5 separate regions of the Homo sapiens genome follow, and regions 1, 2, 3 and 4 are each linked to region 5. Evidence: fine-mapped expression QTL. A gene starts in region 5. Each other region holds a variant in brackets. All regions are shown on one strand. Distances are between the middles of the regions.

Region 1 (5,105 bases), 120 kb before region 5:
TAATAGCCACGTGGACAAATAAAGAAGCATGTGCAAGGACCTCTCCAGTTAAGGACTGCAGGGGGACATGGCGGTAGCCCGTCTGTAAACATTCAAAGGGAATTGTGTACTGGCCGATGAATTCATCCCCAATGTAGTCATCATCCAGCACTACAAAGCGCACCATGGCCAGTTCAGGCAGGTTGATTTGAAATTCAAAGCTTTCATCAAAAATGGGAGCGTCTCCATTCTGGTGCACTGTTTTTGTCCTTTGTTCTGCACAATCAGCAGGGATTCCATGGATTTCAACATAGACATAAGGATCTACCACATCACCTTTGGCACCTGATCCTTTGGGCTTGGGAAAGTTCTGCCCACTGATGATTTTAATGTGAAGAAGTTGAGGTGAGACCCCTGGGACAGAGTCTTTTGTATTGGCGCTGAAGAAGGAGACCTCCTCCCTCATGATGGCTGGCCGGAGGACATAGCCACAGTTTCCGTTCTGCCTAAACCAGCCAATATTCAGGTCCATCATCAGTCCTGGTGTCTGAAAGTTCATGGCTACAATTTGGCAACCACATTTCCAAAAATCTTGAGGATTCATGTTACTGGAATCAATTCTCATTGGACTGGGAAAAACCCTAGCAAGAAAACGTTTGTTGTAATTTACAAAGTCCCCTGGATTTTCATTGGCGTACTTGCTGGCAAGCACTTCATTAAAGGAACAGACTTCCCAGTACTTCTGAACCTGAAACGACACCTGAAATTCTTTGAACTGAACTGATTTGCAGATGCTGACCAGTTCAGACAGTTCTTTACAAAGCTGAAATCGCTTCACAGGCACATTATTGGGTTGCTCCATGTTCTCTTTTCCCATCCTCTGAGACATTTCTGCTCCTTCATCTTCGTCAGTAACATCTCCTTCTACCCCAGAGCAATTTGAGGACAGCTTCTTTGCTTTAATTAGTATTTTCCCTTTCAGGACATCTGGGGATGGTAGATAAGATTCCTCAACATTGGGTGATGTTGTATAGAGCTTGTCTCCTAAAAGTTTCTTCATGTGCTGAACCATTACCTTCTGTTGTTTAATGGAACAGTGGTTTTCTAAACACAAGATAAGAGGATACTCTGAAGCAAAGAATGCATACTTGTTAATAATATCAATGACACTGCGGAAAACTATCTGAGAGGTCATGGTGTGGCCTGTGTAAATTACAGGTTCATTGTCCGGCCCATCCCATACATCTAATTCAACACTCCGGCAACCCATTTTAAGAGCTCGAATATATCCTGTGATGTCGGAGGGACCTCGGAACTGATCCTCTATTAAGTATGTATTATGAGATGAGTTTATAAAGTAATGAGACAGAGGTTGCTTCATATCCTGACAGACCTTCTTATGTTCTGGATCGAATATATAACAGTCAGGTGACATAAGGTAATTAGTGAACCCGTCTATGGAGAGCCAGCCCTTTTCCTGACCCTCTTTGGATGGTTCATATTTGTGAATAATTTCAAGGCTTATTTCCTCATTTATATGTGCCACACCCTGTTCTGCCTCAAGAAACATCATAAGGTCCTTGGTATCAAGGAATTCTTTATTGCTTGAAAACTGAACTAAAAGGAAATAAATTTCAGGTCTAGTACAAAGCTCATGAAAAACCTCAATAAATTCTTCCTTTGTGACCTCGGTACCAGCTTTGTCCTTTGATTTATGCAATTCTTTGAACTTAAGCTCAATTTTGCTCGTTTTTAAACCAGGATTGAGGTTTCTGATACATTGCACAGCATTACACAGAGTTATATGTCCAAGGTTATCTACATCAATTTCACTAAACATTTGTGAAACCCAAGAAGTCCTCATGTTATCTTGGCTACTTTCTAACATATCAAGTGTATGTTTTCCATAAGAAATTAGGTACCGCAGTCCTGTAACCCAGATGTTTGCAACATCTGCGGAGTTGGCAACCAAATCCAGTGACTCATAATTCTCTCCATATATGACGGAAAACGCACAATCTTCAGATATCTGGTCAGAAATGCCATTGCTGCGGAATATGTCTGTGTTTTTTCCTGTTCTCACTTCCTTGATGGATTTAATGTCAATCTTGGCTTTCTCAGAATCCTTCTTAGATGGCTCCCACCTTAGGCTCTGCATGTCAGCATCCAGTA[A/G]AAAGTACCTATGATAAATTCTAGAGTTGGAGCGAACCTTTTTGAGTTCTGAACCCTCAACCATTGAATTAATACAATCACTTGCACTGCTGATCTTCTTCTCTGTTGGCATGCTGCTGAATGAGACTGTCTTTTTCCGTTCCCTCTTCTGTTTTGTACCATCCTGAGAGGAAAAAAAGACCGTATATTAGAATAACATAAATATAGGTTTCTATGTTCAAGATTATGAATAGAAATTTAATTTCCTAGAAAAAAATCATACTATTAAGATTTCCTATTCTAGATTCCTGTGATGAATGATACTCATTCATCTCTAAAGCTCAGAATTGGCCTTGCAGTTGACAGCCTAATACCAACAGGTATGAAATCATTATTGAATAATTGCAATTCATATTTATCAAGAAGAACAATTTCAGGCCAGGGACGGAGGTTCACACCTATAAACTCAGCACTTTGGGAGGCTAAGGCAGGAGGATTGCTTGAGGTGAGGAGTTTGAGACCAACCTGGGTAATACAGTGAGATCCCATCTCTACAAAAAAAAATTTTTTTTGGCCGGGCATGGTGGCTCATGCCTGTAATCCCAGCACTTTGGGAGGCCAAGAAGGGGCAGATCACCCAAGGTCAGAAGTTTGAGACCAGCCTGGCCAACGTGCTGAAACCCTGTCTCTACTAAAAATACAAAAATTAGCCGGGCATGGTGGCGGGTGCCTGTAATCCCACCTACTCGGGAGGCTGAGGCAGGAGAATCGTTTGAATCCGTGAGGCAAAGGTTGCAGTGAGCTGAGATTGTGTCACTGCACTCCAGCCTGGGCAACAGAGTGAGAATCCGTCTCAAAAAAAAAAAAAATTAATTAGCCAGATATGGTGGCTCATGCCTGTAGTCCTAGCTATTCAGGGGGCTGAGATGGGAAGATTGCTTGAGCCCAGGAGATTGAGGCTGCAATGAGCTATGATCTTGCCACAGCACTCCAATGTGGACAACAGAACAAGATCCTGTCTCAAAAAATAGAAAGAAAGAAACAATTTTCAGAGCCCAGAGAAAAGTGAAAATGCAGGATTCCCTGATTAAAAATTATTAAGAATTTCAAGGTGACAGAGGAGCTAAGTGAAGCCCAGGGCTCTTCTGAGTCAGTGTGAAGCCTGTGCAACTGTACAGGTCATACACCATGAAACAGGCCCTGTTTCTACGTACGCCTCCTACACCAATACTTCTCAAAGGCTTGTCACCAGACCACCTGCCTCAGAATCATCTGGGTTACCTGGTTACAATGCAGATTGCTAGGCCCATGGAACCAGCTCCCTGGGGCTGGTGCCCAGGAATTTACATCAAGGTAGCACTCCATGTGACGGAGGATGTACACTAAAGTTTAAAAACCATTTCCTGACTACTTGGGCTAAGACGTCTAGACTATTTCTGGAAACTATTTGCACCAAATGATGAGAAACAGCTAAGTAGAAACCAATTAAGTAACTGTTAAATGGGAATTCCAGCAGAAATTCCTCTCTCCAAAGTCTCATACTAGATCAGTCATCAGTATACATCAGATAGACATGTAAGTCTGAGATGAAGGGCTAGATTATAGCTGTTGGAGCTCCTAAAATCGTAGAGTTGGATTTATTAAAACCTATTACTATGCCCCAATGCTCAGAACAATGTCACCTTGTACCTTAATATTAATAGATTATTAAAAGGACTAAGTTTAAAACTTCAGGCAGCACTTATTTCTAAAGAAGTTAGCATCACCAGTAAGGCACTGTTCAACTTTCCTGCTTAAGGTAACATGTTCTCATCTTAAGGGGCTGACATCCACATCTGTGTGTGTATTTAAGTCCTTCCTTGTATGGAGACCTTTATTATTTGAAAAGAGTGCTCAAATTACCTCAAAAGATCTTTCACAATTTTAAACCTAAAAGATGATACTGCCTTTCAGTATGTGTATAAAATCTATGACAAATTTTCAGTATTCATTGTATTTATAAATAAGAAATAGGGATGGGAGTTGGAATTATATCACTTTCATGACAAAGAAAAGAACATTGTTGAATATTATCCAAAGGCAATTCTAATTTTCCTGCTCTGGATAGAAAATATCTGTATTTTAAAAAGCTATTATGCTATACTCTATCTCTGAAATTTAAAACCACTTTTACTTTCTAACTACCTATACTTCCAAAAGCAATTTGCAGAAGGTAATTAAACTTAAACTTTAAATCATATGGGTATCATTTTCCTCAAAGTTTCAAAATGAACCATAGAAGCTTTTGTGATCTGGGTGCCAAGACAAAACATAAAAGCCACAAGGTAGAATATTTCTTTACAATTATATCCTCAGAACAATAAAGTGCAAAATACATAAAAACTGTGGTAATTGTATCTGTAAGATACATTATATTAAAGCCATTTCAAATCCCTAAAGCATAGATTGTATTACATCAATTTGAGTGAGTTAGCATGAAATTAGTTTTGTAATCAGCCATGCATAAGGACATGAAACAAATGTATAATTTTCTATTTTTCAGAATGACGTCTTTAGTTTTTTTTTCCCAGTAGAGACGGGGTTTCACCATGTTAGCCAGGATGGTCTCGATCTCCTGACCTCGTGATCCGTCTGCGTCAGCCTCCCAAAGTGCTAGGATTACAGGTGTGAGCCACCACGCCTGACCGATGTCTTTAGTTTTTAAAAGACGCATTTACCTTTGATAAAGACAACATACTGACTCAGTTAGGGAATTTTATAATCTTTATATATCGTGTCTCAAAGATGACACTAGTAGAACAATTACAAAAATATATGGATGTGGTTTATCCACTGATCCATTAAGAAATATATAGTATTTTCCCAACATTGTAATCTTTTATTCTTTCATTTTTACAGGCTGATTAATATTCTGTTACACTTTCTAATTTGTTATAAATGATACATTTCAGATAAACAGGTTTCTTTTTTATTAA
Region 2 (5,105 bases), 170 kb before region 5:
CTAAAAGAAGATGTGGTGGTTCAATATCCAGTCTTTAAGAGAAAAGATGCTGTGGATTTCAAATGGGGCCTGGGAGTCTGATGCAGGTTTCCTGTGTCTCATCTTCAAAGTGTTAACTTTCCTCCTTGAAAGTAATGATGATGGGCTACAATTTATGTGTCCTGTAACATTGTATGGGATGACTTGTTTAATCTTTTAATCTTTTTCAGTAACTGTAATCCAGCCATTCCCAAATTGCTGTTTATGTAACTGATCTTAGTTCACTGTAATTTAGAAGGCATAGGGCCATCAGGGAATCACATAATCCACTGCCACTTAGAAGAAGGAAAATGAGGCAGAGAGGGTCAAGTGACTAAACTAAAGTCACACAGCAGGGACATGGTACAGAGGGCACCAGAACATGGGTCTCTCAATTCCCAGGAAAGAACCTTTCACTTCTGTAAAACAGAGCTGAGAAACATTCTGACATAAATGAGAACTGATACGATTTGGATCTGTGTCTCCATCCAAATCTCATGTTGAAATATAATCCCCAGTGCTGGAGGTGGGTCCTGGTGGGAGGTAATTGGATCATGGGGGTAGCATTCTCATAAATGGTTTAGCACCATCCCCCCTTGGTAGTATATAGTAAGTTCTCAAGAGATCTGGTTGTTTAAAAATGTATGGCACCTCCCCACTCTCTTTCTCCTGCTTGGGCCATGTGAAGATGACTGCTCCTGCTTTGCCTTCCACCATGACTGTAAGTTTCCTGAAGCCTCATAAAACAGAAACTGATACTGAGAAGCAGGGCATTGCTTGAAGATGTGAAAGCAGCTTTGGAACTGGTAATGGGCAAAAGTTGGAACAGTTTGGAGAGCTCAGAAAAAGACAGGAAGATGAGGGAAAGTTTGGAACTTCCTAGAGACTTGTTAAATTGTTGTGACCAAAATACTGATAGTGACATGGACAATGAAGTCCAGGCTCAGGAGGTCTCAGATGGAAATGAGGAACTTATTGGGAACTGGAGTAGAGGTCACTTTTGCTATGCTTTAGCAAAGAGCCTGGCTGCACTGTATCCCTGCTCTAGGGATCTGTGGAACCTTGAACTTGAGAGTGATGATTTAGGATATCTGGCAGAAGAAATTCCTAAGCAGCAAAGTGTTCAAGATGTAGCCTGGCTGCTTCTAACAACCTATGCTCATATGCACAGGAAGAGAAATGACCTGAAACTGGAATTTATATTTAACAGGGAAACAGAGCATAAAAGTTGGAAAAATTTGCAGCCTGGCCATGTGGTAGAAAAGAAAAGCCCATTTTCAGAGGAGGAATTCAAGCAGGCTGCAGAAATTTTATAACTAAAAGGCAAATACTAATAGTCAGGACAATGGGGAAAAGGCCTGAAAAGTATTTCAGAGACCTTCCTGACAGCCCCTCCTATCACAGACCTGAGGCCTAGGCAGGAAGAATGGTTTCATGGACCAGGTCCAGGGCCCAGCTGCTCTGTACAGCCCCTGGACACTGCTCCCTGTAGTCCCTTTCTTTTGGCTGATTTCTCCCTTTCGAAACGGGATTATTTACTCAATCCCTATATCCCCATTGTAACTTGGAAGTAAGTAACTTGTTCTGATTTTACAGGCTTATAGGTGGAAGGGACTTGCCTTGTTCAGATCAAACTTTGGACTTTTGAGTTAATGCTGGAATGAGTTAAGACTTTGGGGGATTATTGGGAAGGGATGATTGTATTTTGAAATGTGAGAAGGACATGAGATCTGGGAGGGGCCAGGGCAGAATAAATGGTTTGAATCTGTGTCTCCACCCAAATCTAATGTTGAAACATAACCCCCAGTGCTAGAGGTGGGGCCTGGTGGGAGGTGACTGAATCATGGGGCAGAGTTCTCATGAATGGTTCAACACCATCCCCCCTTTTGAGTTCTCATGAGATCTGGTTGTTTAAAAGAGCGCATCACCTCCTCCAACCCTCCTGCTCCAGCCATGTAAGATGGGCCTGCTTCTCCTTCACCTTCTGCCATGATTGTAAGTTTCCTGAGACCTACACAGAAGCTGAGAAGATGCCAGCATCATGCTTCCTGTACAGCCTGTGGAACCATGAGCCAATTAAGCATGAGCCCATTTCTTTCTAAATTACCCAGTCTCAGTTATTTCTTTATAGCAGTACGAGAACAGACTAATACAAAACAAAAAGTTATAAGGCTCTCAGGTTTCCATTTGCAAATATAATTGACCCTTCAACAACAGGGGTGTTAGGGGCATTGACTCTGCATGCAGTCAAAAATCTGCATGTAACTTTTGACTCCCCAAAAAGTTTACTAATAATAGCCTACTTTGGACCTGATGGATGCTTTACTGGTAACATAAACAGTTGATTAACACATATTTTGTATATGATATGTATTATGTACTATATTCTTACAATAAGGTAAGATAAAGAAAAGAAAACATTAAGAAAATCACGAGGAAGAGAAAATGTATTTACTATTTATCACGTGGAAGTGGATCATCACAAAGGTCTTCATCCTCATCATCTTCTAGCAGAGTAGGCTAAGGAGAAGGAAGGAGAGAAGGGGTTGGTCTTGCTGTCTCAGAGGTGGCAGAGGCAGAAGAGGTGGAGGAGGCAGAAGGAAAGGCAGGGGAGGCAGGCACACTCAGTGTAACTTTACAGCAATGCATTGCAATTTCTGTCTTTTTTGCTTTTTCACTTCTCTAAAAATGCTTCCATACAGTACCAGTACTTCTTCCACTTTTTGCTTTAGTTTCAGTGCCAGTATCATCAGGAGGATCTTTGTCATAAAAGAAGTCATAAGCAGTCTTGAATAATAGGAACCCTTCTTCCAGATTGTCTGATATCAATTTGTTTGGGGGCACTGCTTCTTCTACATATTCTTCATTGTCTGGCACTGGTTTGGAAGCACTCATCTCCGTCAAGTTATCTTCTGTTAATTCCTCTGGTGTGGTGTCCATGAGCTCTTGATTTTCTCCAAAATCCATAACCTGAGACCTTCACCCCCCCCCAATTTTTTTTTTTTTTTTT[G/TG]CCATATTCACAATCTATTTCATGATTTCTTTCAGCAGCTCTGTTATAAATCGTGTGAACATCTGGACGGTTTTCTCCAGCAGGAATTTATTGTTTTGGACTCGATGACTTTCATGGATTTTTCTGTAGCAACAATGGTATCTTCAACAGGATTTTGAATCCTTCTAAACATGTATGATGTCCTCTCTATTGGGGGTTCTCTTCCACAGCATTAATAATCCTTTCCATATAGCATCCTCTGTAATGAGCCTTAAAGGTACTTATGACCCTTTAATCTACATGCTGACTTGGAGACATTGTGCTTGGGGGAAAAGAGACCATTTCATGGCTTTCAGTGTTGAACTCATGGGGTTCTGGGTGACCAAGGGCATTGTCCAATATCAAAAGAAAATTAAAAGGCATTCCCTTACTGGCAAGGTACTTCCTGACTTCAGGAACAAAGCATCATGAAACTAATATAGAAGAAGCTCTTGTTGTTCAGGCCTCCATGTTGTACAACCAAAAGACTGGCAGCTGGTGTTTATCTTTCCCCTTTAAGGCTTGGGCATTAGCAGCTTTATAGATGGGGGCAGTCCTGACCATAAACCTGACTGCATCTGCACAAAACAGTAGAGTTAGCCTATCCTTTCCTGCCCTAAATCCTGCTGTTTGCTTCTCTTCCTTACTAACAATTCTCCACTGTGACTTTTTTTTCCCCCCAGAACAGGGTACTTTCAGCTTCATTAAACACCTGTTCAGGCAGATATCCTTTCTCCTCAATGGTTTTTTTAAATTTTATTTTTATTTTAAATTTTTATAGGTGCATAGCAGGTATATATACTTATGGGGTACGTGACATGTTTTGATACAGGCATGTAATGCATAATAATGGAAAATGGAATATCTATCCACTTAATAAGCATTTATCATTTGTGTTACAAACAATCCTATAATACTCTTCATTGTTTTAAAATGTACAATAAAATTATTAATGACTACAGCACCCCTGTTGCGCTATCAAATACTAGGTCTTACTCGTTCTTCCTAACTTTTATTTTTTGGTACGCATTAACCATCCCCACCTCCCCCGCCCTGACCTCCCATTGCCTTTCCCAGCCTCGGGTAACCATCTTTCCATTCTCTATCTCCATTAAGTTCAATTGTTTTGATTTTTAGATTCCAAAAATAATTGGGAACATGTGATGTTTGTCTTTCTGTGCTTGGCTTATTCCACTTAACATAATGACTTCCAGTTCCATCCATGTTGCAAATGATAGGATCTCATTCTTTTCCATGGCTGAATAGCACTCCATTGTGTATAAGTATCACACACAATATCCATTCAACTGTTGGTAGATGCTTAGGTTGCTTCCACATCTTGGCTAGTGTGAACAATGCTGCAAAAAACATGGGAGTGCAGGTATCTCTTTGATATACTGATTTCCTTTCTTTTGGGTATACATGCAGCAGTGGGATTGCTCGATCATATGGTAGCTCTATTTTTAGTTTTTTTGAGGAACCTTCAAACTGCTCTCCATAATGGTTGTACTAATTTACATTCCCACCAACAATGTATGAGGGTTCCCTTTTCTCCACAGCCTCGCCAGAATTTGTTATTGACTGACTTTTGGATAAAAGCCATTTTAACTGCAGTGAGATGATATCTCATTTAGTTTTGATTTGCATTTGTCTGAGGATCAATGATATTGAGCACCTTTTCATATGCCTGTTTTTCATTTGTATGTCTTCTTTTGAGAAATTCCTATTAAACATTTTGCCCATTTTAAAATTGGATTATTAGACTTTTTTTCCTACAGAGTTGTTTGAGCTCCTTATATACTCGGGTTATTAATTCCTTGTCCCATTCAGTGTGTTATTTCTCCATTTTGTTGTTTGTTTCCTTTACTGTGTGGAAGCCTTTTAACTTGATGTGATCCCATTTGTTCATTTTTGCTTTGGTTGCCTGTGCTTGTAGGGTATTACTCAAGAAATCGTTGCCTAATCCAATGCCTGGAAAGTTTCCCCAATGTTTTCTTGCAGTAGTTTCACAGTTTGATGTCACAGATTTAAATTTTGATTTGATTTCTGTATAAGGAGA
Region 3 (5,105 bases), 200 kb before region 5:
ATGCCATCTTGACTCTGATGCCCTCTTCACAGCAGCGCCTTCCCTGACAGCCCCATCTTGTCTAATTAGAACTCCCACTTCCTGTCCATAATTCTCCTTACTGCTTCCCTGCCTTGCTTTTTCCATAACACCTATTGCCATACTCTACTGCTTGGTTTATTGTCTGTCTCTTCCACTAAATGTAAACTTCACGAGGGCAGGAATTTTTGTCTTCTGATCACTGCTGTATCCTCAGAGCCTAGAACAGTGCCAGGTACAGAGTAAGGGCTCCATAACCATCTGTTGAATGCAATTAAAGTATTGTAATTAAAGTAAAATGTGAAAGTCTCCCCTTTAATCTCACAGCTGCCCCCTAAACAATGAGTTTTGTCTTTTTCTTGGCATTATATATATATTACAAATAGGTATTTTATTTTACTTTTAATGTAAATACAATCAAGCAATCTATATTGTTCTTTGGTTTCCTTTTTTCTTCACGAAAAGTTATGTCTTAGTGATCTTTCCGTGTCAGCATATATAGATCTACCACATGATGACAGGGTATTTAAAAACAAAAATCCCCAGATGGCATATGATAATTAATGTGGTAATAACAGAATTCTTCATCTGGTTGAATCTTATGTTTCTCAACTTCAGAGAAGTAATCATGGTATCTTAAACAGAATAGGCCTTTGGACATTACCAAGGCGAGACACAAAGGACTCCCAAAGGCAATAAATCTGGGCTTGAGGAGCTGCTGAACTTTGTCCACATCACTTTCATTTTGTTCTATGTGTCTAAGACTACATGTTTAAGATGTCTTGGAGGTAAGGCATGTAGCATGAGTGAAGAACAATTCTGGCCAGGCGCGGTGGCTCATGCCTGTAATCCCAGCACTTTGGGAGGCCGAGGCGGGCGGATCACCTCAGGTCAGGAGTACACGGTGAAACCTCGTCTCTACTAAAAATACAAAAAAAAAAAATTAGCTGGCATGGTGGCGGGTGCCTGTAAACCCAGCTACTTGGGAGGCTGAGGCACAAGAATTGCTTGAACCCAGGAGGCAAAGGTTGCAGTGAGCTGAGACCACACCATTGCACTCCAGCCGGGGCAACAAGAACAAAACTCTGTCTCAAAAAAAAAAAAAAAAAAAAACTCTGAAAGAGGTGGGGGTGTTTGTTGTAGCAGTGTTCATATTTCATTGCTTCAAAAGACTTGAAAAGAGCAAAGGTTACTTAAAACACTGCCACCCACTGACACAGGGTGTCTGGTTTTGAAGACTCCTTCCACAAAGCTGGCTTTGCAATGTTTTCAGTTGAACAACTCAAATGTCATTTGATTTCGCACATTCTGGTTTGAATTTTTTTAACTTATTCTATTTTGTTTTCATCTTGAAAGAGTTATAACAACCTTAGGTCAAAATATTTAAGGTTCTTACTTAGGCCCAGAAAGTAATCTTTAAAAGATGTAACTAAGGGCAGTGGCTGGATCCCAGCAGCTCTTGCTGCGAGTCTGGCGTGACTGTGCTTTTTCTGGCTGAGCCTGTGGCTTACCTGGGATTGGATCAGAGGCCAGAGCAGCCAGGAAAAGAATGATGGCAGCTCCAAATGCCAGAACCGCACCCCAGCTGTGCTCAACCCTCGGCTAATCACCATACTTTCTGTATGACCACAAAAGATGTTCTAGTTTTTAATATATTAAAAATATTTCAAGACACATCTGTTAGTGCTACATTTTAGGAGCCATTTAACAATCACAAGTCATTGCTTTTATTCAGACGTAGGGGCAAAACAACAGGGATTCTACATCTGGCTAATTTTTTCAAAGTCCTTTTGTCCAACTATCTATTAGAGAAAAACAGTTGTCTTACTTCTGAGGTGAGGGATCCAGTGCGGCAGCTAAGACTTCCCCTGCCCTCTGCCACCTGTGTAATGGCCACATGCTTGGATGTTGAAGACAGCAAAGATTAGCACCTTCCATTCCCTGGGGGCCAGCAGACACTTTTCTTCCAAATCACATGCAGTGTGAGGGAGGAGAAGGAGGAGGGTACTCATACCATTATGGGAGTCTGAGGCACAAAAATACTCCTCCTTCCTGTCTTTCTTATCTATTTGGGAATGCAGAGAGGAACACAGCAGAATTTAGATACCTTCACTGATACCACCTGCTCCACAAAGAGGGGATGCAAGGGAAGTGCTATTACCATTCTCGTTTCATAAAAAGGACACTGAGTTTAGAGAGATTACGGGTAGAGTCTGAACAGCAAATCACACTGAAACACACACACCTTTCTCTCTGGTATGTTTGTTTTATTTTCCTGTTGGATAAACTAAACTGTGAGGCCACAACTATAGAGAGTTGAACCCCACAGACTGCATGCAATATTTTAAAGCAAGCAGGTTGAAACACACACTACATTTTTCATGTATCCAGCACATCAACAACTGTGTAGACAATTCACTCTTCCTGTGATTAAAAGCAGAAACAGAAATATGGATTTCCACTGTGTGTTTGTTGAATGAGGAATGAGTGAACAAAAGAATGAAACGGGTGTGGTGGCTCACACCTGTAATCCCAGCACTTTGGGAGGCCGAGGTGGGCGGATCACCTGAGGTCAGGAGTTCAAGACCAGCCTGGCCAACATGGTGAAATCCTGTCTCTACTAAAAATACAAAAATTAGCCAGGCATGGTGGCGGGCGACTGTAATCCCAGCTACTCGGGAGGCTGAGGCAGGAGAATCACTTGAACCCGGGAGGTGGAGGTTGCAGTGAGCCAAGATCACACCACTGCACTCCAGCCTGGGGGACAGAGAAAGACTCCGTCTGGAAAAAAAAAGAAGAATGAATGGATTGTA[G/A]GAGTCTTGGCTACGGATTCTAAATCGCCTCTCATTATTATACATTGATAGTTCCCCTTTCAAGAGTTCTTTTGAGGCTGGCTGAGATCGTGGCACATTCATCAGAATTAAGGAAGGCCTCCTAGCTTGGTCAGGTCCACTTCCCACTGAAGTCTCAGTAAACCTTACGGTTGAAAAAAGACTCCCTAATCATCAGTCACCTAAACCTACAGCAACAGGACACAGGCTTTTGTACAGGACGTTAGGCTCATTTTAAGAGTGCGTGATGTTTTCTGTCCTTTTGGCTTCCTGTATGTGCACTCACACGTTTGATGGGCATGGAACATGAGCTGCAAATCAGCTTGTCTCCCCACAGCAGGAAGACCGCCTTCCCTCCACCCTGACCTCCACCCCAAAGGGTGCAAAGAAGCTGCCAGAGGGGGATGAAGGGTTCTGTGCAGGAGCGGAAAGGAGAGCCCTCTAAGCACAGCTCCTGCCCTTGGTTTTTGCTGGATCCAAAGAGATGTTTCTGTGGTTCGAGGCAGTGTCTTGATGATGAAGGGATAGTGGGCTGCATGGATCTGACTTTCCATGTGGCTCCCTTTGCCTGCCACACTTTTTGCCTATATTTGGGCTGTCATCACATTCACAGTTAGTCTCCAATTTTCCCATGGTTGTGCTCAGAGGTTTGTACAAAAGTTAATAATTTTAAATATGATTCAATTTTTTAAATTCAGAATGAATGCCTTCATCCTTAGAAACAATTTTACTTTTCCTTCACCAAAGACGGAGGGTTGGGGGCTCCTCGGCAGCACCACGGAGGAGGCGGTGTCTGAATTGGGGAAACTCAGGGCAGGAAAGGACGGCGGCAGGCCCAGGGGCTGATGCTGCCTGCCACAGAGGAGTGACCGTGACTCCAACATATGGCACCTCTGGAGCCCAACCATTTAGCAGCATGATTTCTATGCTACAAAGCTTTCTAGGTTCTGACTGACTACATCTCCCTCTGCTACAGACCTGGCCATGGGAAGGGCTAAATTCCACCATGCAGTAGGACAGTGGCCTCGTCTGGCACAGAGCTGGCCACTCTGGTGGCAGAGGTAGGGTTAGCATTCAGGAGCAGCCTTTGGAGTCTCCAGACAGTGGAGGTGAGCCATGACCTAAGCACAGAAGGTGGGGTGTCAGGAGAGGGTTCCAGGCAGGGACCAGGGCCAGAGGGGAGGGGAGGGTGGCCCAGCTGTGTAGAGAGAGGATGCAGAGAGCGAGGGGACACTGAGAGGCAAGTGGGGCTGGGCCATGGGCGTGAGAGCCCTTGGAAACACCAGGGAAAATAGCATGCACGTAAGCACCTCCTTCGCGCTATTAATCTTTCAAGCACACCATTTACACAGTCAAACATTAGCTGAGTAATCACAAACTCCACATGAGTGGGGTCCCAATGTTTGAGGTTTTACTGTATTTCAAATGGACCAGAAAGAACAGCCTGCCTAATGACAAACGCTACTATAGTTTGATTTTCTGAGCCATTCTGAGAAATTTTCACACACTAAATAGAGAAATGGCTTTCAGTCAATTATAGCTTTTCAGGAAAAGAGACAACATACTATACTACCTATAATAAATAAAAATAACTAAAAGATATGAGCCTCAATAAAAGGAGTCATACATCAACCATCATGGTAATTTCAAAAAGGAAACAAATGCCAGTCTTTAAGTCTTCAAGATAAGCACTGTACCTCAGGTAAAAATGAAGAAAATCAAGACAAATGTCTACCAGGTGCAAAAACCATCTGGTTTATTGATTTATGTTTTGGCAGAAGTTTTAGGTTCCTAAAGAGAATGAATCTCTAATTACTTTTAGGGTTTATTGATAGCCTTGTTTCTGATGGTAGAGGGGCACAGGTCAGGAGAGCTAGCCTGGCAGCCATTCATCTGGAAAACATCTTCGGTTGTAACAAGCTTAATTCAAGTCCAAGATACGATATAGATGCTATAAAAAAAAAAAGCCCAGCCATCCCAGCCACCCCAGATGAGATCCAGCCATGTGAGTACCTTCTTCGATGTTCCAGGCCAAGCTGAGTTCCCAGCAGAACAAATCTCTTAAGTGATCCCAGCTAATATCACATGGAGCAGCAAAACCATCTGGCTGAGCCCAGCTAACCCAAGAATCACGAGAAATGAGAAGTCATTGTTTCAAGCCACTAGTTTTGCAGTGGTTTGTTATACAGCAATAGATAACCGAAACAGCCACTAAAGGGAGCCATATTTTGTGCTGACAATACCTTCCTGGACAAA
Region 4 (5,105 bases), 63 kb after region 5:
GTGTACCTGGCATTTTTTCATAAGCCTCCATGTTTCCCCTCGGCTTGGTATCTTATTTAGTAAGCACGCTACTGAACACATCTGTTCTCACAATAGGAATTAGAATCAAAAGGCTTCCTCGGTGATTCTGGAATTTGTCACCAGAAAAAGAAGAAAGTTCATTGACCAAAGGTAGTCATTGCACACCTGCAACCTGAAACATCATGGAAGCTCTTGTACTCCAGCCACCAGGCTGTGGGGCTCGCCCTGAGAGGCCTGGGCCACCAGCTACAACTATTCCCTTTCTGCCCTGAGCTGTCAGGATTTCTGCCAATGATTCCACTTGTATGAGCTATCTATAATAAACTCACAGAAGCATAGAATACAATAGTGGTTTCCAGGGGTTGGGGACTGGGAAAGTGGAGAGTTGTTGTTCGATGGGTGTAAAATTTTAGTTCTGCTCGATGATTAAGTTCTAGGGATCTATTGCACAGCATAGCGCCTATAATTTACAATACTGTATTAGACACTTCAAATTTTGATAAGAGGGAAGATCTCATGTTAAATGTTCTTAACACACACACACACACACACACACACCCCAAAAACAAAAGGACACAAGGGAACTTTGGGAGGTGATGGATGTGACTATTATTTTGATCACAGTGATGGTATCACGGGTTTTTGCATATGTCTAAACTCATCAAATTCTGCACATTACATATCTGTAATTCTTTGCATACCACTTATACTTCAGTAAAACTATTAAAAATATTTCTGGCATTGTAAAAAAAAATAACAACAACCATAATTGTAGCTACCACTTGCATAGGGATAACTATCCTAAGGCCTAACTGCTCTCCGTTAACTAGCAGGTCCAATCCTCTTAACAACCCTATGAGGTAAGTAGCTTCATTTTCCAAACGAGGAAACTGAGACACAGAGAAGTTAAGTGACATGCCTAAAGTCACACAGCTAGAAAATGACAGAGCTTGGAATTGGGCAGCCAGTTCAGTTCTGGCTGCACTGCCCTCCCAGAAAGTGCCTAGCCTGGCACAACAAACCTTTTGTTAGGTTATATGGTCAGGGACTCTATTTCAAAAGCTCCCTTTTTTAAATAAACCCCCAATAAGCACCACCCTTCTGCCACCTCCCTCTCAACTCTTCCTCAAGTTAGAACATCTAAGCTACTTCCCAGGAGGTCCCTCAGCTGCCCTCATCCTACACTGCCTTCTTCTACTCATAGTTCCTCTTCAATGTTTCAGAGAACCAGGGTTCTCCTATATCCCAAGATGAATTTTAAATCACTCTTCCCATCAGTCCTCCTTGGAGAAGCAACATCTCCCATCATCTGTATATTCCATTTCGCTCTGTCCTTCTCTGGTGCCCACAAAACTGCAGGCATCTCATGGAGCAGAGCACAGGCTCAGGGCCAGGCTATCTAGGTTTGAATCCTGGACCCAGACTTTCTCATTGTGTGATTTTAAGCAAGTCACTTAACTACTCTGTATCATCTGTAACTTGGGAATAATAAGAATACCCATTCAGCGGAATTGCTATGAAGATTTAGTAAGTTAATGCAATCAAAGGCTTAGGACAGCGCCAGGCGCACAGTAAGTGCTCTAAATGCCACTGTTATGATTTGTATCTCCTCTACTTGAATACATGTCAATTGGCCCCATTGCTCTGTGAAGTTACTTCCCCACTTCCTTCTTTGATCTTAGTGACCAGGTCACTCTCCAACTCAAAATCCTTCAATGGCTCCCCATTGTTTACCCAATAAGATGAGATCACATTAGCTTGGGCTTCAAGGCCTGCCTCTTCCTATATGTGGATTGCTTCCTCCCTCCTTTCCTGCCTGACCCATCCATACCCACCCTTCAAGGCCCAGTTTCCATGATATCTCATACAAAAAAACCTTCTATGATCACCCCCTCAGAAATCCCTGCTTCCTTTTTGGAGCCCATACTTCTGTCCTGCATGGTTCCACCTCACTGTCCTGCACATCTCAAGAACAACCATCTATTATGTGCTTGTTTCCTTGTCTAGCATCCACTAACTGTCTTCTTCTCCCCCTAGTGCTACTTCTACAGCCAGACTGTATTGAGTGTTCAATAGGTGCTAAGTGTTGAGGTACATCCATCATCTCAGCCAATTCCTGTGAAAACCATGAGAATCATTATCCACATTTTACAGATGAGCTAGCTTCATAATTTACAAAAAGTCACACAGTTAGTAAATGACAGAGCCCAGACTTGAATCCAGGTCTGGCTGACTGCAAAGCTTGTACCTTAGCCACCATGCTACACAGCTGCTTCTCTGACTTTGTATCTTCCCCAGCCCTAATTTTAAAAGAAAACTGTGCTGCTGAGCACTTCGGCAGGTACTTAGGAACAATAATAATGAAATACGGATAATAATAACAGCTAATTTGAGTGCTTACTATGTGCCAGGTAACTTTCAAAGCACTTTACTTCTATTAACAAATGCAATCCTCACAACAAGCATTTGAAGTAG[T/G]TACAATTATTATTCCCACTTTATAGATGAGGCACAAAAGGGTTAAATAACTTGCTCAGGGTCACACGCTACAAGTGGCAGAGCTGGGATGCAAACTCAGGAAGTCTAGCCTCAGAGTCCAGGCTTGTAACTGTCATGCTGTCTCCCAGCATGTCTATTTTGAATGAATAAATGAATGAATGAATTTAAGGGGAAGGATAAAGAAAAAGAATCACATCATTGGAAATGGGGATTTAATGAATTTGTACTTTGTAGAGACCCCCTAAACCAGATAACAGGAGCTGAACTGTGACACTCAGCCACATATCCTCTTCCGTGGATGGGCAGGTCAGAAGATAAGGGCAAAGTACCAGGGAACTTGGAAGGGAGCAAGAGCCATCCAGGCAGGACCTGGTGGCACCTCCCTGCTGCCTCCATCCACAATGCCATGGAGACTCACTGAAGTGACGCTGGGCTCTTGGCTTCTCCAGTGTGAAAATCCAGACGGGACTGCACACCTGCTGCCCAGCTCGGCCTCTGTGTCAGGAACACCAGCCCTGGGTGCCATGGAGAATCTTGTGAGCATGGGCTAGTGTGCCCACATAGGCAAGTGTCCATGCAACCTCCAGGAACCTGCCCAAGGCATTTGCAGTCAAAATGACCACTTGGCAGGGAGGGGCTAGCTAAACACTTCTCTTGGGCTTCATTCAGGAATGGAGCAAATCTGCACATGAAGAGATTGAAAGAATAAACAGAAGCCCCTGCTTTCCTATCCTAGTGCTGATTCTGGATTCTTTAACTGAAACAAATACTCATAGTTCCGGTTATCTTACTGACACCCATGAAAACTGCTTGCTTTGCTGATGTTAAAGCATCTTGTCCTTTCCTTATCAGAATACTTATGTCTTGTCACTGTCATTGTTCTTTTAATGGTCATTTACTGGCAAATAATTAGTAAGCTCCCTAAGAACAAGAATCATGCCTGCTTGCTCATCTCTGTGTGCCCAGGGCTTACCTGCAGATATTCAAACATCTGCTGAGTAAATTCATGAGCAAAAATGAGTAAGTGATCATGTCAACTGATGTCAACAGACCAGCTCACTGATATCCAGGTTTTCTCTCTGAAATTCTTGGTTCCCCTAGTGGCTAGGTGGGATTATATGACTTGTTCTGACCAATGGGTTGTTAATGAAGATGACATGTCATTTCTGATCTGGGGCACCAATTGGTGGTTCAAGACCCACAGAACTTTCTTTACCTCTGCCAGAGTGATTGACAATTTTCCAGATGGTGGGTTCTTTCTCAACCTAGGTCCTGCATTGGACATGTAATATGACTGAGAAATAGACCTTTGTTGTTTGAAGCCACCAAGGTTTGGAAGTTGTTACTGCAGCAAAACTTAGGCTATCCTGACTAATAGATATTCAGTTTAGACAAGATTTTCAGGGATCTACAGAACAGAAGAGCCTGAGGAAATTATCGTCTAGAACAGCTCATAAGACCTTTCTGCAATGTTGGAAATGTTCTCCTAAAGAACTCCATAATGAAAGCTGCTAATCCATTACTTTTTAAAAATATTTTAAAATTTGACAAACTATGCAATAATGGTTTGTCTTGCCACATTTCTTTGCCTGCCTCTATGATAAGTAAGAGTGTTTGGGACTGGCCATCAAAGGCAGACCACAAGATCAGTCATAGAATGCACACACTGCTTTCTGCATTAAAATGAAAATGAAGAATGGAGATTATCCTTATTAATTGCCATCTGAAACACAAATCTCAGTTTTTTATCAGCTGTGAGGAAAAGAGACAATTCAATATCAATGCAATATTTAGAGACCAAGCTGAACATTCCAAGGCATCAAATTGTGTTGCTTCCAGCCTGTGATTTAAAAAATATATCATAATAATAATGCATTTAGTCAAACTGCTGTCTCCTAGCCCCCATGCAGGAGGAGGCTATCTCTTGAAACTCATGCACTAATTTGCCATGTAAATCTCCCCACTCACTAGGCTTGACTTTAACAGAGAACACTGTGGTGAAGAGGAAGGCCTGCAGAGGCAGCTGGCTTTATGGTTAGCTGGCTTTCCCTGGTTAGGAAAAGCTTCCATGAATATAGTTATTATGTAATTCATATGTGCTATTTAAGGGCCCATGGCATCTTGTCACTGCCATTGGTATACAAATATGTATTTTTATGGAAACCATCAATTAATGAGGGTCCTGGGTGGCCAGGCTGTGTACTAGGTTTTATGTACAGAATCTCACTGAATCCTGAGAGGCAGGGATTATTGAAGTCGTTTTTGTAAGTGAGGAAAACAGACTCAGAGACCAAAAAAGTGCTGGTATTCAGACCCATCTCAACTTAATCCAAAATTTCATGCATTTTTCTCTCTTTTTTTAAATATGATGTTTAGGATATGTGGCACCCCCATCTTTGGACAAAACAGGAGGAAAGCAAAAGCAAGCTTTTGTGTTGAGCAGAAGGGTTCAGGAAGAAGCATGAGGGAGGAGAATGAACCCTGAATTAGGAGGCAGAAAATATGGGTTCAACTTCAGTGTTCACAAAACCCCAGTGAATGACTTCCTCTTTCTGGGCCTCAATTTCTTCATCTGCAAAATGAAATGG
Region 5 (5,105 bases):
CCTGGCACTTTATATCTAGGGTTACACTGGTGAACAAGAAGCCAAATGCTTTCTTTACAAAGAAGAAAAATGACAAAATATCCTTAAAAGTTTCAGAATTCAACATAAGTATCAATATCATTTCTAAAATCAGTGATTTTTGAACATTAATCATTTCCCCCATGTGCTTCTAGAGCCTTCAATTAAGAAATGGTATCTATTGACAAGTTCCCAATTCCATATATCAGAAATACTAACAAATCATCCTTCTTGCTTATCGCCCAGTAATGTAAAATTAAAACAAATGTTTTTGTAATTCAGTAAGTTACACTATGAATCTCACTATGGACACTAATAAAGTTTGATTTTTTAATGCAAAAACAAGTATTCAAAACAATTAAAAGAAAGGGGTTAAAATTAGGTAGGCTGGTATCTTCTTTGGAATTTTCACCTCAAATTTTATTAACACCACAATGCAAAATCACCACAAATATTTTATGACAAATAAAAACAGAAATGTCACCTAACTCTGTCAATAGGATTGATTATCATGCACAGTTGAAAGCAACTTCCATGGAAACATAAGCTACAGAGTAAAAGAAAACGTAAGTCACTAAAAGCTATGTATGCAGCAAAAAGACACTTTACTTTCCTTAGTTTATCTCTACGTGTGTGCTGCAGGTAGTTAATACACTTCATCTCCAAACCCTTCAAATTGTGTCCTTGCCCAGACATAAACTGCGCAAACAGATGACAAAGGGAAATGCAGTTTCACAATTGCCTCTTACATAGAGTAGCAAGATGGTATATTTCACTAGATTACTGCATAAGTTGATAACACCATCAGACATTTTCACAGTACTTGGAAGATTTCTGTAGGTCCAATAAAATTTCAGATACCACCACTGCCAACTCTCTTTACTGTGGCACGTTCTGCCCTCCCACCAGTTATCAGCCACAGGAAGGGTGGGTGCAGCCTGTCAATTTGCTTTGCTGCTCCCTGTCCTGATAACTCCTTGATTTTCAGAAAGCAATGTTTTCATTTGCTCCAAACTTGAGCGAGCCGAATGAGCTGGTCTTGCCTAAGGCTCTGCTCTTCTTAGCTCATCAACTATTTTTTTTTGCACTTCATGTCATGAAAAATATTTTTACATTGCGAACCAAAATGTAACATTAGAATGAAACTAACACAAACTCGGGAGTTCCTAATATTACTTCTTGAGTTTAAAATGCTCAAAACAATCGCTGGCTTTCTTCCGCTAACACTGTGCAAGCAAAACCAAGCAAACTGCCCAAAAGAACTTCCACAGTACTCGAGGCCTGCCTACTGCAGCAAGGAAAAAGATTAAATCGTGTGGAACTGTAATCTCTGAGCTTTTGAGCCTAAGAAAGCGGAAATCTGCATTTATGTTCAGAAATCTACTCTATTTTTCTTTGTGACTGAGTGACCGGATATTAGGAGATTTTGCACCCTCGAAGTGTAAACATTTGTAAGAGCCAACTAACTGTATACGGATCAGAAGAACCCTATTAAATAATCTCTGTTCACCCTCTGTTCGCCGCCTGGGATTTTTAAGAAAATGTTCTCACATTTCACATAATCCCTATCTGTGTTTAAGATACAATAGAAATCTTACAGGGAGTCTGTTAACCAGACTAGGCTACACATAAGAGTATGCCCTACCCCGGCAGGTACAAGGCCCTAATGCCAGACCAATCCTGGAAGAGGTGACAGCCCCAAGTTCAACTGAGGATGTCTGAGCACAGCTCCCCCTGCACATTAGGGATCACCTCTCCATTCTTTCCACATGCCATTTGCATCCAATCCCCGCTCAACCACCCCAAGCACCCATGCTCCAGTGGTTCCTGTTAGCAGTGGGCTTCCTCCTTCCACCACCACTCCCCCAGGGAGAAAATAGAATCCAAGGACGGCTGAGGGTGGGCGATGAGCGCCCTTCTCCCACCTACCTTGATGATGCTGCTCCGGCGGGGCAGGCCGCCCGGCTTGCTCTCCCGGGGGAGGGTACAGACGACCGCGCTGGGGGTCGGGGCGAGCGCAACGCCGCGGGGTCCCCTGGTAGGGCTAGCCCGGGCTTCGTCCCCGGACACGCCGAGGCTGCAGTCTCCGTTGGAAACCCCGCCGCTGTCATAGCGCGCCCGCCCGTGGCCGAGGCGACCTCCCCCGCCACCGCCTTCCCCCACTCCGGCTTTCAGGGCGCCCTTGGCGCCGAGGGCCGGGCCCGGGGAGGTGGGCAGGGCCCCGCCGGCGGCGCCCCCCCGGCCGCACTCCGCCATGGGCGCCCCGCGACCCGCCTGCACAAAGCCGCGTCCTCGCGTCCCCGCGTCCCCGCCGCCGCCTCGGGCCGCCGCGCGCGGCCCCTCCTCCTCTCCTCCCGCCGCCGCCTCGGCCGCTTCTTCCGCTTTTTTTTTTTTTTAATTTAGATGTGATGTTTGTTTCGAGCTCTCGCCTTGCGCACGGTTAAAGTCGCGGCGGCAGAATTATCGGAAGATTCCTGCAGGGGAAAGAAGAGAGAGACGAGTCAGCTCCGGCGCCGGCGGAGCCCCGGCTCTCGGCACCTGGGGAAGGAAAACACGCCCCAACACACGCGCCTCTGCGGGCGCCAAAAATAACCCGCGCGGGCCGGGCGCCCACCCCGGGGCAACCCGCGCCCACCTCAGGGGCCCCAGGCACCCACCCCGAGGTAACGGGGCGCCCACGTCAGGGGCTCGGGGCGCGCTTCCCCGGGGCTCAGAGCAACTGGGGTCGGAGCACCCGCCACGCAGGAAAAGGCGCCCACCTCCGGCGAAGGGCGAGGGGAAGTGGCGGCCGCCCCGACACTCTCTGGACACGCGGAGGCGGCTCCCGAGGATCTCCCGGCCCCGGGCGGGCGGGGGGCGACGCGTGGGTCTCTCCGGACCCTAACTCCCCAGAGGCTGCCGCGTGCCGAGCTCTGTCACGTCCCCTCAGAGCCCCGTTAAGGCCCGCGGCGCCGAGAGGAAGCCCACGGCGGGCAGGGGCGGCCGGGTATGACAATCGCCGTGCGGCCCCGGGGCAGCTCCCGGAGGGGGCAGCCCAGACCCACCCCACCCGCCGGCTGCTGTCTCCTCCCGAGCTCGGCGCTGCCCCCTACAGGCCGCGTGGTCCCTCCTCGGTCGCCCCCTGACCCACCATGAGCCGCCTAGCTCCCTGTCGAGATTGCCGCCGTCGCGGCTGCTGTCACCGAGGCCGGGTCATCGGGCCGCGGGGACCTCAAAGCCGAGTGGACGGGAGCCCCAAGTCATTGCCTATCCTTCGCCTCCCCAGAGCTGCTGCAACTGTCAGTCACCCACCCGGAACCCCGAGGGGCAACTACCAAGTAGGCCTCGGGGCCCGGAACAAGGGTCCCGGGGCTCAGGATCTCGGCCGCTGCGCCTCACTCCTGCCCCAGCCCCGCGCACGGAACTCGTTTCCTTCCCACCCAGTTCGGGACACTCCTCTCTGACTTCCCCAGTAGGTCAGACTCATTTCATACACTGGGACCAATTCCTTTCCCTTGGGCTCCTGATTGATTCAACTAGTTGGAAGGATGCTGAGGCAGGGGTGAAGGCTGGGGTGGCTGGCAGGCTATGAGGGGCAGAGGACATCAGCAGAGCCTATTTCGTGCCCTCTGAGTCTCCACACACAGATTTATCATTGAGACCTTCCCGATTCCCCTACCAGGGATGCCGGCTGGCCCTGCCGGCCTGCGGGGCCCAGCCTAAGTCAGGCTCATCTTTTGGGACAGGATCTCACTTGCAGCGCTACAGCCAGTCCCTCTTCTGGTTCTCACGCACCCACTTAAGGCGGAGTGACTGGCCTAAAAGTCCAAGCTGATCGTGTGGCTTCCGTTCGTAAATATCTCCCCTGGATCTCCCTCCCTGGAGCCAGACAAGACTCAAAACTCCGAAGGGTGAGACCCCAGACCTTCCACCGCCACCCCACGCCCCAGGCCTGGGCCCACCCACCTCTCCATCCCAGGCTCCGTGGGCTCCAGCTTCCTACCCTCTCTGGCACCCCAGCCCTTCCCCAACTCGTGTGCTTTCATTTCCAGGAATGCAGTCCCCGCAGGGCGCAAAGGAGAAACTAATAGTCCAGAGGCGGGGTGAACTTAAAGACCTGGCTTTCATTAGCGTGGTGTTGTAACAGACTGCCAAGGAGCCTCTGAGGAAATGGATTTACGTACATATACATACTCGCCCTTGCCCCTGAAGCAACATCAAATACTTTCATGTTATTCTTGGGGGCGTTTTAATTCTTCCGATCCTCTGAATTCGTGTTTTTGTACATCTCTTTCCAACCTGGGCCTACACACTAACAGAAATAGTTTTTTACATCGAAGGACAATGCTTAGTGTTTTATTCAGTCTCAGCTCTTTTCTTTCTTTTTTCTCGTTGTGTTTCAAAATGTTTATTTTTTCTGTCTTGTGATAGTTTTGGAGGAAAAATATTGAAATAATTCAAATCAGGCTCTTAACTCTGCTTTATTAAATTTATAGTCATAGTAGCCTGTGAGTATGCTTCGGGGGAGGAAAAAAGAATGCTGGGGTCTTTATTCTTCAAGTTCTCTAAGTTTGATATTTTGAATAAACACCCAGAGGTGTCTCTGCCTTTTGTGTGTTAGTATCTAATCTTTCCTGCATTTACGAGTCACTAGTAAAATGCTATGAAAGCCATAGATCCCATGGCTCTCACTGTGATTTTCCTGGGCTGAGTAGGGACTTAGTGATGTTTAACCCCCAGTATGCTTTTTATAGAAGCACCAGCTGATTCACCAGTGCCCTCCAAAGTGAGCACCTATCCATCTCACTCTGGACTCCCAACAGGTCATACCAGGGAGCTTCGTTGAAATAGACTTGGCATTTAAATTAAAATGTTTCCCAAAGCATCTTGGCAGACCTGTAACTAATGATGCCAGAGGCCCAAGGCCTGTGCCAGGTTCCCTTTTATTCCCATAAGTGCTTGTCTCCCACAAGCCACTGGTCACACGCCTGCTGATGTTATAGAAGCACTTCTTCATCCCACAAACAGCCCAACTGTAGGTACCCTATCTCAGACATGGTGAAGGGAAGCAGCATGTTCCTCTGACATGTGCGATGCTTGGCTCCCAA

The links. PIP is the estimated chance that this variant, and not a neighbour inherited with it, causes the effect.
Region 1: its variant is the best candidate, but not a certain one, in a credible set for the expression of PLCL2 in nasal epithelium (TOPMed, PIP 0.78).
Region 2: its variant is the best candidate, but not a certain one, in a credible set for the expression of PLCL2 in whole blood (INTERVAL, PIP 0.85).
Region 3: its variant is the best candidate, but not a certain one, in a credible set for the expression of PLCL2 in whole blood (TOPMed, PIP 0.50).
Region 4: its variant is the best candidate, but not a certain one, in a credible set for the expression of PLCL2 in esophagus muscle (GTEx, PIP 0.52).

Annotation. Positions count from the first base shown.
Region 1 is chr3:17,006,883-17,011,987 of GRCh38, reverse strand. It overlaps PLCL2 (phospholipase C like 2), which reads right to left. Exons shown (of 6, transcript NM_001144382.2): 2 at 1-2,314. Among named protein-coding and RNA genes, the nearest start is that of PLCL2-AS1, 45 kb to the left of the region's middle. The variant A/G (reference allele first, on the strand shown) is at 2,152.
Region 2 is chr3:17,050,160-17,055,264 of GRCh38, reverse strand. The region is part of intron 4 of PLCL2 (phospholipase C like 2); the gene reads right to left. PLCL2-AS1 (PLCL2 antisense RNA 1) reads left to right here and starts at 681. Exons shown (of 3, transcript NR_046640.1): 1 at 681-739. RefSeq lists an enhancer at 656-845. The variant G/TG (reference allele first, on the strand shown) is at 3,029.
Region 3 is chr3:17,078,166-17,083,270 of GRCh38, reverse strand. The region is part of intron 5 of PLCL2 (phospholipase C like 2); the gene reads right to left. Among named protein-coding and RNA genes, the nearest start is that of PLCL2-AS1, 26 kb to the right of the region's middle. The variant G/A (reference allele first, on the strand shown) is at 2,832.
Region 4 is chr3:16,819,100-16,824,204 of GRCh38, reverse strand. No RefSeq gene overlaps it. Among named protein-coding and RNA genes, the nearest start is that of PLCL2, 63 kb to the left of the region's middle. RefSeq lists an enhancer at 3,429-3,608. The variant T/G (reference allele first, on the strand shown) is at 2,497.
Region 5 is chr3:16,882,209-16,887,313 of GRCh38, reverse strand. It overlaps PLCL2 (phospholipase C like 2), which reads right to left and starts at 2,359. Exons shown (of 6, transcript NM_001144382.2): 1 at 1,948-2,359. The coding sequence starts at 2,274. LOC105376972 (a long non-coding RNA gene) reads left to right here and starts at 2,972. Exons shown (of 3, transcript XR_002959616.2): 1 at 2,972-3,469; 2 at 3,744-3,908; 3 at 4,050-4,386. RefSeq lists enhancers at 1,509-2,008, 2,009-2,504, 3,507-4,215 and silencers at 1,997-2,326, 2,537-3,206.